Homo sapiens: one gene and its partners. The protein of the gene in region 3 interacts with the protein of the main gene of each other region in a biochemical or structural test. Each region holds a gene or a part of one and is shown on either strand. Other genes may lie near its edges. The genes, in order: ZYX, LOXL2 and LATS1.

Region 1 (3,648 bases), on a different chromosome or scaffold from region 3:
TAACCTGCAATTCCTGCCTGTGTTGTATCCTCACGCTGACAGGGGCTGCTCAGCAGCAGGCAGGCCGGGTAGGTGTGTGTGCGCGTGTGTGCACGCCATTGCGTGCCCCTGTCCCATGGGGGCGATGTCCGAGCATGCTCTGTGGAGTTGATGCGTGGCCCTGGAGTGTCCGGTGCTTCAGTGACCCGAGCTGCTGTGTGCGTGGCCTCCGTCCGCCCAGTCATTCTGGCCTGTCTGTGACTGCTCAGGGGGTTTGGGCAGAGTGGGTGGAAATGTCTTGCTGTACGAGATCCAGGCTTAGGTCCCTTCCCCTGTTATTTGTGTGGTGCTGGGGATGGCGGGGGTAGGGGGACGAGGGAGAAGCTTTAAGGGTCAAGCCTGAGCATCTGGGACACGAGCTGGGAGCTAAGCCTCATCGGAAGAAGCCGGGTAGGCTGGCCTGGGAAGGTTCTTGGAGGCAGCAGCCCTCTAGAGTGTGAGGAAAATGTTGGGATTGCAGGTGCGCTCCCCTGGGGCCCCAGGGCCCCTGACTCTGAAGGAGGTGGAGGAGCTGGAGCAGCTGACCCAGCAGCTAATGCAGGACATGGAGCATCCTCAGAGGCAGAATGTGGCTGTCAACGGTGAGCCCACCCCACCGGGACACCCCCACCCTGCCCCCACATCACGGTGGGGGCCAGGGCTGTGGCTCCACTCCCTATCTGAGCTGGCTGATCCCTCGCAGCTCTACATACTTCCTTCTATTTACTGCTGTCTTCTCTGGCCTTCCCAGAACTCTGCGGCCGATGCCATCAACCCCTGGCCCGGGCGCAGCCAGCCGTCCGCGCTCTAGGGCAGCTGTTCCACATCGCCTGCTTCACCTGCCACCAGTGTGCGCAGCAGCTCCAGGGCCAGCAGTTCTACAGTCTGGAGGGGGCGCCGTACTGCGAGGGCTGTTACACTGTGAGTCGGGCTGTGCTGGGCTGTGCTGGGCTGTGCTGGGCAGTCGGGCCCTGGAAGCTTGCTGTGGGGTGCCGGTTCCCTGCCAACCTCCTCCTGCTGCCTCCTCAGGACACCCTGGAGAAGTGTAACACCTGCGGGGAGCCCATCACTGACCGCATGCTGAGGGCCACGGGCAAGGCCTATCACCCGCACTGCTTCACCTGTGTGGTCTGCGCCCGCCCCCTGGAGGGCACCTCCTTCATCGTGGACCAGGCCAACCGGCCCCACTGTGTCCCCGACTACCACAAGTGAGGACCTGCCACCTGCCTTCTGGGTTCCCGGCGTGCTTGGTCTGGTAGCCCGGCTGCTTGCTACCCTAGCCTCAGGACAGCCCCAAACCCCTGGTGGTGTTTTCTGGTCCCATGTCCTGTCTGTAAACAGCAGGGACCAAGTCATCGGGATGTAGCTGTCCAGGGGCCTTAGGCCTGGGCATCGAGTCCTGCTGCTGTCTGGTCCCTCCCTCGCCCTTGATCACTGAAGCTTATTGTGGGTGTATGTCAGCATTTCGTGAAGTGTGCTGGAGTGACTTCATCTCACACACAGGCTGGGTTCTAAAAGTTCTTTTGGAGATCAGCTGTTTGGATTTCTGGTTTCTCCCCAGAAATAGTGTTTAGAAGGTGGCTACTTTTTCAGGCTGACCCGCAGAACCTCAGTGCAGCTGTGGGAACAGTGCAGAATCTGACCCCCACCTCTGACAGAGTGTTTGGGTAAACACTTTCAGGATTCCATCTGGGGTGGCCACAACTTCACATCCCTCCACAGTGCCAGACAGTCAGGGCAGAGGCAACGTGCATGGGGGTGGGAGGATTGGGGGAAGGTGAGGGTCAGGGACCCAGGATGGGATGGGAGGGGTACCTCAGGGCTGGCTTTCTGCAGGAGCTGCAGTGTGAATGGGACAGTAAGGGTCGAGTGGGAGAGAACACCGTGGCAGGTGTGTGGGAGGCTCCCTTGCTTTGGGAGAGTGACTGGTGAGGCAGGAAATTCCCTTTGATGAGGGCCAGTCATGGTGTCTCACTCTTAGGCCCTTCTGGTGAGCTTCCTTCACCTGGAGATGCAGGGCAGAGAAGTCTGCTTCCTTGCTGCCCAACCTGGCTTATGCGTGCGCACACCGGGGATGAAAGCCCTGGCTAACTCGGCTGGCCCTTTCTGCCCCTTCCAGGCAGTACGCCCCGAGGTGCTCCGTCTGCTCTGAGCCCATCATGCCTGAGCCTGGCCGAGATGAGACTGTGCGAGTGGTCGCCCTGGACAAGAACTTCCACATGAAGTGTTACAAGTGTGAGGTCAGCCATCCCTCTGGACTCCTTGGGCAGGTTCTGACCAGGAGGTGGCGGGAGATGCTGCTTACTAACTGGGAGGTGGAAAGCACCAGCATTCAGGAAACAGGGCTGTGATTTTGAGGGTGGCTCATGGTGGCACCCCATCTGTCCTGCCAGAATGCTTCCTGCCACTGCAGGAAATGGGGCTGTGGGGCTTCTGAGGTCACTTTGAGTCATGGATAAGCCAAGAAATGGGACAAGCCAATAGGAGAGAAGAAGGGCATGGTGTTTTACCGTGGTAGGGGATGGGGAAACAGGAGCTGAGAGAAGAGGTCTTCGAATGGAGGTGAGCCAACCTCTATTTTATTAGGGTGGTGGTGGGCAGGGGAGCAAGCACCTTGGGAGCAGCTCTACCCACTGCTTGCCCTCTTGCAGGAAGGTCCTAGTGGGTGACTGGAAGTAGGATAGGGATGGGGAGTTGGGTGTGGCTGGAAAAAGCGATGACACCAGCTCTGAGCCATGAAGCATCTTTCTAATTCCAAGATGGAGCTGGATGGGGTGGGGTAGGGTGGAGCAGAGCAGGGGCCTTCCGGTCCAGTGCCCCTCACCCTTCCTTCTTCCCAGGACTGCGGGAAGCCCCTGTCGATTGAGGCAGATGACAATGGCTGCTTCCCCCTGGACGGTCACGTGCTCTGTCGGAAGTGCCACACTGCTAGAGCCCAGACCTGAGTGAGGACAGGCCCTCTTCAGACCGCAGTCCATGCCCCATTGTGGACCACCCACACTGAGACCACCTGCCCCCACCTCAGTTATTGTTTTGATGTCTAGCCCCTCCCATTTCCAACCCCTCCCTAGCATCCCAGGTGCCCTGACCCAGGACCCAACATGGTCTAGGGATGCAGGATCCCCGCCCTGGGGTCTGGTCCTCGCCCATCCTGCAGGGATTGCCCACCGTCTTCCAGACACCCCACCTGAGGGGGGCACCAGGTTTAGTGCTGCTGCTTTCACTGCTGCACCCGCGCCCTCGGCCGGCCCCCCGAGCAGCCTTTGTACTCTGCTTGCGGAGGGCTGGGAGACCCTCCAGGACATTCCCACCCTCCCCCATGCTGCCAAGTTGTAGCTATAGCTACAAATAAAAAAAAACCTTGTTTTCCAGAATTCTCAGTAGTCAGCTCTTTTGTAGTGCCTGCAGCCCTCATGGGTGGGATGGAGGCAGAAAATCAGTTCCTGTTTATTTACAAAAATATATATATGTGTATGTATGTATATATATTAACCCCTCAGCTCCCTCCCATGATCATCCTTTTACTTCTACCCCCACCTCCCTTTTAAAACAAAGAGGTTTTCTGGGGTGCAGAGCAGGGTTCTCCTGAAAGTGGGCAGAAGCAGCACCGATAGCCTAGTCTGGCAGGTT
Region 2 (3,648 bases), on a different chromosome or scaffold from region 3:
AGGGAAAAACCACAACCCCCTTGTCTGACAACAGGTGTTTTAAATTGAGGTTGAAATAAAATTAAGTTGTCACTGGAAAAATACCCAGTCACTGGAAAGCATTTGTTATAAAATAATGAGCGTTGGAAAGCCTGGAATGGAAAACATGAATCTGAGGTTACCCCTGGATCGCTCAGCCAGCCGGATAAACAGAGATGTGGAAGTATCGGACGTTTGTTTAAAGAAGACAGGAAGTGGGTTCTAAAGCCCAGCATTTGCTAACTTCACTGCTGTGGCTCTCATCGCCCAGAGCAAGCTGCAGAGAACATTTGACTCTGTGCTGTCTCCTGATCCAGTTACCCCAAAAGGAAATTTTCAATTGCATGGAGGTGAGATGTGTATGAGATGGGACTTCCTTTCTCCTATAATTTCTAGAATAACAGAAAAGTTGGAAGGGAGGATAACAGTTATCAATTTCAATGACTCCCAAACCTGTCACTTTGCAGACTTCCAAAAGAGACAGAGTCCTGGGCTCCAGCCCAGACCTTTTAAACTAGATTATGGTGGGTTGAGGTCTGCGCTATTCTGTACTTTTAAGCTCCCTTGGGCGATTCTTACGCAGTCAGCATGGCATTAGCCCTTTAGTCCAGGACAGGAGTATAGGCAGCTCTGCTTTAGTCCAGTAGCCAGACTTGTGCTGAGGTCTGGGCTGCAGCTCAGCCGGGCGGGAGGGTGTGGGAGCTTCCTTTGCCTGGCTGACCCAGAGATAGGAAACTCTTAGCTCCTGGAAAAATGTTTAAAAAGAAACAATTCCCTCCACCCTTATCTCTTTCCTATTTGGGAACATACACTGTCAGGGTTTCAGGGGTTCTTAGCCCAACTTCCAGATGGGGAAAATGAGGCTGGAGAGGACATGCGTCTTCCTACAAAGTGTGGTGTCAGAGGTCAGTACAGACTGAGCTCTAGGTTCAGGGCTTCAAACTTTGTCCTGCCTCAAAGCTGTTAAAGCAATTTTTTGGGTTTTTGTTTTGTTTTTTGTTTTTTTGAGATGGAGTCTCGCTCTGTCACCCAGGCTGGAGTGCAGTGGCGCGATCACGGCTCACTGCAGCCTCCGCCTCCCGGGTTCAAGCGATTTTTGTGCCTTAGCCTCCTGAGTAGCTGGGACTACAGACACTCGCCACCATGCCCGGCTAATTTTTGTATTTTTAGTAGAGATGGGGTTTCCCCATGTTGGCCAGGCTGGTCTCGAACTCCTGACCTCAAGTGATCATCCCGCCTCCGTCTCCCAAAGTGCTGGGATTACAGGTATGAGCCACTGCGCCTGGCCAGCTCTTAAAACAATTTTTAAAAATAAACTAATAAATTTGAACCTCACAAGGGAGGAAAGAATAGGCTAACCAACGGTGAAAAACCCAAAGCATCTGTGTGCCTATTGTGACCAAGCCCACAATAGCAGGTTAGTGTGAAAACGATGAACTCCACATGCCAGGAAGGTGGGGGGCGTCAGGGAGCTCCAGCATGTGGGAGCCATTGTGAGGAAGAGCAAGAGGCTTTCCTAACAGGGAACGATTTGGAGTAAAGCGCAACTTCCTCTGGGCTGACGCAGCCCCCAGGCAGGGCATATGGGGCGGAGAGAGGAGCACAGGCCGATTTCACCCCCTACCTGGGGTCACCAACTGTCCTGGTTTTCCTGAGGTTTTCCCAGGATGTGAGACTTTCTGTGCTAAAGCCAGGAAAGTCTTGGGCAAATCAGTATGGTTGGTCACTTACTGTGCCCCTCCTCAAGCCCCCCGACCCCGCCTTCCTGCAGGGTGCAGCCTGAGTGGGCACAGAAGGATGCCAGTCCCTGGATGGGCATCACCAAGAATTTACACTTCGCAGTGCGTGCAGCCTCCTCTCCCAGGCTGACCTCAGGGAAGGCCACTCCGGGCCTTGCCAGGTGACAGCACTCAGATCCAAAGCACAGAGCGTTTACCTTCTCCCTTGCCGTAGGAGGAGCTGGCAGTCCAGGACTTGGCCTCCACGTAGCCCAGCTCCCGGCAGACGACGTGGGCAGCGTGGATGGAGAAGTCGTCATCGCACACGGTGCCCCACTGGCCATCATAGTACACCTCCACCCGGCCCTCGCTGTGCTTCCTCTTCTGCCCAGCCAGGCGCAGCTGAATCTTGGCCACGTTGGCGGGGGCCTGGGGCTGGTGATACTCAGGAGCCGGTTGCTGGAAGTACTCGGGGTAATGGGGCCAGCTGTCATACTGTGCCAGGCTCAGGGGGGACAGGAGGGCCAGCATAGCCAGGCAGCTGCAGAGGTGGGAGCACAGAGGCCTCTCCATCCCTGTCTTCGGGCTGATGATCCCACGAAGGGGCCCTGCGCAGCTGGGAGGGACAGGCGGGGTACAGAAGCAGCAGGAGCTTTCTGGAAGAGAGGAGAGATGCGTTAGGATGGGAACGTGGGGCTACGGAGACCTACATAGAGAACCAGCGATTTCATACCCCTTGGCTTAATATGGAAAGCTCGTCCATTCTCGACGCCAATCCAGCCCCACTCCTACATTTCCACCATGCAGGGCTGGGAGGTCCCACCTCCTTTACCTACTGCCTTGTCATCTCTCTAGAATGCTTTTTCCAGTAGAGTTCCTGGCAGGGAACAGAACACACTCCAACTTAATTTAAGGAGAGTTTTTTAAGACTACGGACATGCCGGCAGAGTTCTGCAGAACTAACAAAGGCCGGTGTCACACCCTAGGGCTGGCGACTCAGAGGGGGCTGTGACCACCCTAGGCTTGAAGGGAGCCTGCGGGGGTGAGAACTGGAGACTGGCAGAGGGAGCTGTCTCTTAGGAGCTGTGGCCCTCACTGGAGGGTCTCAGAGCCAACCCATGGCAACGGCGGGGACATGGGAGGGAGAATAAATACCTGACTCCCTTTCCTCCCGTCTTTGAATCATTCTGGTGCCTCCTATTAGGCAAACCCAGCCCCCTTCAACTCGAAGCCACTGGCAAGGGAGCTGAGCCCATTGAGGGAGCCCGTGTGGGACAGCCTCCTGGAACATGGGGGCCGGTGGAGAAGGAGCGGGTCTGAAGGGGTGAGGGCAGGATGTTCAACACACCCACCCTCCATTAAATGAATGGCACCCCAAAACACTACAGGAACATTTGCTAGATGAATTATAATTTTCCCGTCAGCTTTGAGGGCTGCAATGCTAAATGAGTTTTAAAATCCTCAAGGTCCTGGTCATCGTATCTGGTGGAGCCTACCTCTAAGAATTCCCGAGTGAAATCATGTAGCAAGAGACCTCGTGTATCTTGGTCCTCCCGTAATTCAGAGAAAAGAGGAGACGATTTTAAAAGGAGCACACGTGTGTCTTGTGGAGAAACATGCAGGGCCCCAAACCAGGATGAGCAGGTGGAAGCTTAGGTGGGGGCATAAGGTATTTTATTTTAACCCTATGCAGAGGAGTAGGCTAATCATATTCTTCTGGTCATGGCACACTACCTTTGAGGAAGGACTGGCTAACTTTCCTGTAGTCAGAGCTGTCCAGAGCTGCCCATGGAGGGATGATCTGCCTTGGAGTGAGGCAGTTCCATGTCTGTTGGGTGACCAGCAGTGCTCAGTGCCCCGAAGAGGATGCTGGGGTGGAGATGTTAGAGCCTGGGGGACAGTCAGAACTGAG
Region 3 (3,648 bases):
TAAAAAAGAAAAAAAAAGGAAAGGAAATGACTGGATCCTAGAATGGTTCTGCTACAAATTCTTATTTAAATACATGCAATTAAAATACACAGGATTCATTTTAAAGAAACTATTATTTCCATGAAACAATGTCACTTCATTTATCAGGGGAAATAACAGAAGCATTACATTTGAATATTCATTTCAATTTTAATTGTACAAGACCACCCTGGTCAATATGGTGAAACCCCGTCTCTACTAAAAACACAAAAATTAGCCGAGCGTGGTGGCAGGCACCTGTAGTCCCAGCTACTCGGAAGGCTGAGGCAGGAGAATCGCTTGAACCACAGAGGCAGAGGTTGCAGTGAGCCGAGACTGCACCACTGCACTCCAGCCTGGGCGACAGAGCGAGACTGGATCTCAAAAAAAAAAAAAAAAAAAATTTCAATTGTAAGATAATCTAAATCTTCTGATCTCAAAAACGCTGAAATGGAGGAATTGTGTATATCTTTAGCCAATTGCTTTTGGTAAATATATTCTGGCAGAGACTATATTCACATACAGTACTCGACTCCATTTCCCAGATTTGGCCAAAGCTGGATGAGCAGATGTAACATATCTCAATTCTGGACTGAGGCAGTTAAAAGTCACTTTGCTTCGGTTTTCCTGCTTTAATGACAATGTAGGTTACATTCTGAGATGGTGGCTTGACAATATGGAAGGAAGGTGGATCCCTAAGCCACTGGATGGAGAACCCTACTGACTCCCACTGAACTCTGAGCAAGAGAAACATTTCTGTTGTGTTAAGCCATTGATATTTGGGGATTTGTTACCACAAAACAGCCTAATAACATTGTGAAAATAGACAAAGACTGCCCAAATGGAAACAAACAAAGGCTATTTAATTAGATCTTACTATATAGGTAGGGAGTCAGCCACTGTCAACTTGTGCTTGGCAAAGATTCAAAGGCAAGCAGGGGAGTGGGAAATCTTTATACTAAAAAAAGGGGGAAGACATCAGGTATGCTCTGATTGTAGGTTGTTGGCATGGGAAACTGGAGGTGGGCTAACTGATGTAAACCAAAAATAAAATTCTAAGTCCTTCAACCATCTGAATGAACCCCTCCTCCCAGCCAAGAGCATTTGAAAGTTAACCTGAAAAACTAGTTCCAGCCATGATGGGAAGCGGAGTTTGGCCATACCTCATTATTCCCTCCTCCCTGTTGGAATTCAGGCACAGCTGACCAGCACTAACATTAAAACAAATCTTAAGACTGACAAAACAGACTCTCTGTAGCAATAAGATACCCAATTCCAGCCTGACTCTAGCATAGTATCACATGACAGATGGCAGGCCCTGAAAGAAATCCAAGTATTTGACCCCAAATTATGTTTCTTTGCCATATCTTCAAACAGTCCTGCAAAGCTGTCTCTTGTGCGGAAAATCTACATTCTGAAGTTAATTCCCTTCCTTTCTCAGGCCTTTTGCCTGATCCAGGAGAGAATCAACCCTGATAAGAAACATTTACAATGTATTATCTCTGAAGCCTGCCACCTGGAGGCTTCCTTTACATAATGGGAACTTTGGTCTCCACAACCCCTTACCTTGGCTCAGACATTCCTTCCTATTGATTCTATCTGCATAATGGGAACCCTGGTCTCCACAACCCCTTATCTTTTTTTTTTTTTTTTTTTTTTTTTTAGATGGAGTCTCACTCTGTTGCCCAGGTTGGAATGCAGTGGCTTGATCTTGGCTCACCACAATCTCCGCCTCCCGGTTTCAAGTGATTCTCCTGCCTCAGCCTCCTGAGTAGCTGGGATTACAGGCGTGCGCTACCATGCCTCGCTAATTTTTGTATTTTTAGTAGAGATGGGGTTTCACTATGTTGGCCAAGCTGGTCTTGAACTCCTGACCTCGTGATCCACCTGCCTCGGCCTCCCAAGGTGTTGGGATTACAGGCGTGAGCCACTGTGCCTGCCCACAACCCCTTATCTTAACCTAGATACTCCCTTCTATTGATTCTAGGTCTTTAGACAGTAACAACTCTTTCGACCAACTGCCAATCAGAAAATCTGTGAATCTACCTATGACCTGGAAGCCATCTGCTTCAAGGTGTCTTCCTTTCTGGACCTAACCAATGTACATCTTACATATACTGATTGATGTCTTATGTCTCCCTAAAATGTATAAAACCAAGCTGTAGTCTGATCACCTTGGGCACATGTTCTCAGGAGCTCCTGAGGGCTGTGTCATGGGGCAATAGCCATTCATATTTGGCTTAGAATAGATCTCTTAAAATATTTTACAGAGTTTGACTCTTCGTCGACACTGGAAGCGGGGTATCCTATGTGGTTGATTTGGGAAGCATATTTGGCTTTCTCTGAGTCGTCCCGAATTGGAAGAAGGCACAAAAATTAGGGAAGCTGGTAATTACTGACCAAGTCCTGACTGGGCCTATTGCTACATAGGTCATGGGTCAGAGTTCTAGTTTTATATATGATCTGGCCATTGTCCATCTGTATATTCAGTGTTTCATTATCCTAATACAGAAAACTGGTACCTGGAAGTGAGGTGCTGCTACAATAAAAACCTATGCAGTCCTGCCTTAGTGATACTGCCTTAGTGGTCAGATTAAGGGCTGAGAGGAAACAGATACCGGAGGCTGGAAAGATGGAGGATCATGTTTTATAGTGGCAAAATATCTGGTAACGCTGTTGCCTATAATAACTTTTCATACAACTACAAGGTCAGTGAACATACAAAGAGGCTACTGACCTTGTAGTGTTATAGGAGTTTGGTAAAGAGGATTTTGGAAGTGAGTATTGGCTGCTATTAGATATTTGGCAAGTATTATAAGTAAATGATGAGTTCAAGAAGGAAGTAGTAGATTTGAAAGCAAAAACAGAAGAGAATAGAAAAAGTTCAGAAATTTAAAGCCTTGAAGGATTGGAAAAGCAGCTTGTACCTAGACCCCTAGAGGCAGGATTAAAAGACTGAGCACAGATGCCCACTGAAACCCCTTAGCTAACTAGTGCTTCTGTGGTTAAGACCATATTAAAGACGTAGCCTTCCCATCAAACCTAATAGCCTCAAACAACCAAATGAGAGGAGGAGGAATAGACGCTCTTAAATCTTTGGATGAGTTTACCAATACATGTGAACTTCGACTGTGGTTACTGACACATAGAACTGAAGGAAACCAAACAGATCGGAAGAGGCTTACTAACTTTAAAGAAACTGTTTTGTTAAAAAAAAAAAAAATATCTTTTGGCCGGGCACGGTGCCTCACACCTGTAATTCCAGCACTTTGGGAGGCCGAGACAGGCGGATCACGAGGTCAGGAGTTTGAGACCAGCCTGGCCAATAAGGTGAAACCTCATCTCTACTAAAAAATACAAAAATTAGCTGGGCGTGGTGGCATGTGCCTGTAGTCCCAGCTACTCAGGAGGCTGAGGCAGAAGAATTGCTTGAACCTGGGAGGCGGAGGTTGCAGTGAGCGGAGATTGTGCCACTGCACTCTAGCCTGGGTGACAGGGTGAGACTCCATCTCAAAAAACAAAATGAAATTTTTTTTTCTTAAATCATCTCAAGTTCATACTAAAAAAATCTTCTTGTCTATTCAAAATTTAAAACCCTTGGGTCCCCGACTTCTATGAGCAAGAAGCTAG

The links.
Region 1: the proteins of LATS1 (region 3) and ZYX form a complex in vitro, tested with the Homo sapiens proteins (one study listed by BioGRID).
Region 2: of the proteins of LATS1 (region 3) and LOXL2, one has a biochemical effect on the other in vitro, tested with the Homo sapiens proteins (one study listed by BioGRID).

What each region holds. Positions count from the first base shown.
Region 1 is NC_000007.14:143,387,720-143,391,367, forward strand, and holds the end of ZYX (zyxin), read left to right. Parts: intron 1-499; coding exon 500-620; intron 621-769; coding exon 770-939; intron 940-1,047; coding exon 1,048-1,226; intron 1,227-2,137; coding exon 2,138-2,258; intron 2,259-2,858; coding exon 2,859-2,963; 3' UTR 2,964-3,392; downstream 3,393-3,648. UniProt on the Homo sapiens protein: Adhesion plaque protein. Binds alpha-actinin and the CRP protein. Important for targeting TES and ENA/VASP family members to focal adhesions and for the formation of actin-rich structures.
Region 2 is NC_000008.11:23,366,043-23,369,690, forward strand, and holds part of LOXL2 (lysyl oxidase homolog 2 precursor), read right to left. Parts: intron 2,393-3,648; 5' UTR 2,310-2,392; coding exon 1,955-2,309; intron 84-1,954; exon of another isoform or gene 1-83. UniProt on the Homo sapiens protein: Mediates the post-translational oxidative deamination of lysine residues on target proteins leading to the formation of deaminated lysine (allysine).
Region 3 is NC_000006.12:149,708,014-149,711,661, forward strand, and holds part of LATS1 (serine/threonine-protein kinase LATS1), read right to left. Parts: intron 1-3,648. UniProt on the Homo sapiens protein: Negative regulator of YAP1 in the Hippo signaling pathway that plays a pivotal role in organ size control and tumor suppression by restricting proliferation and promoting apoptosis.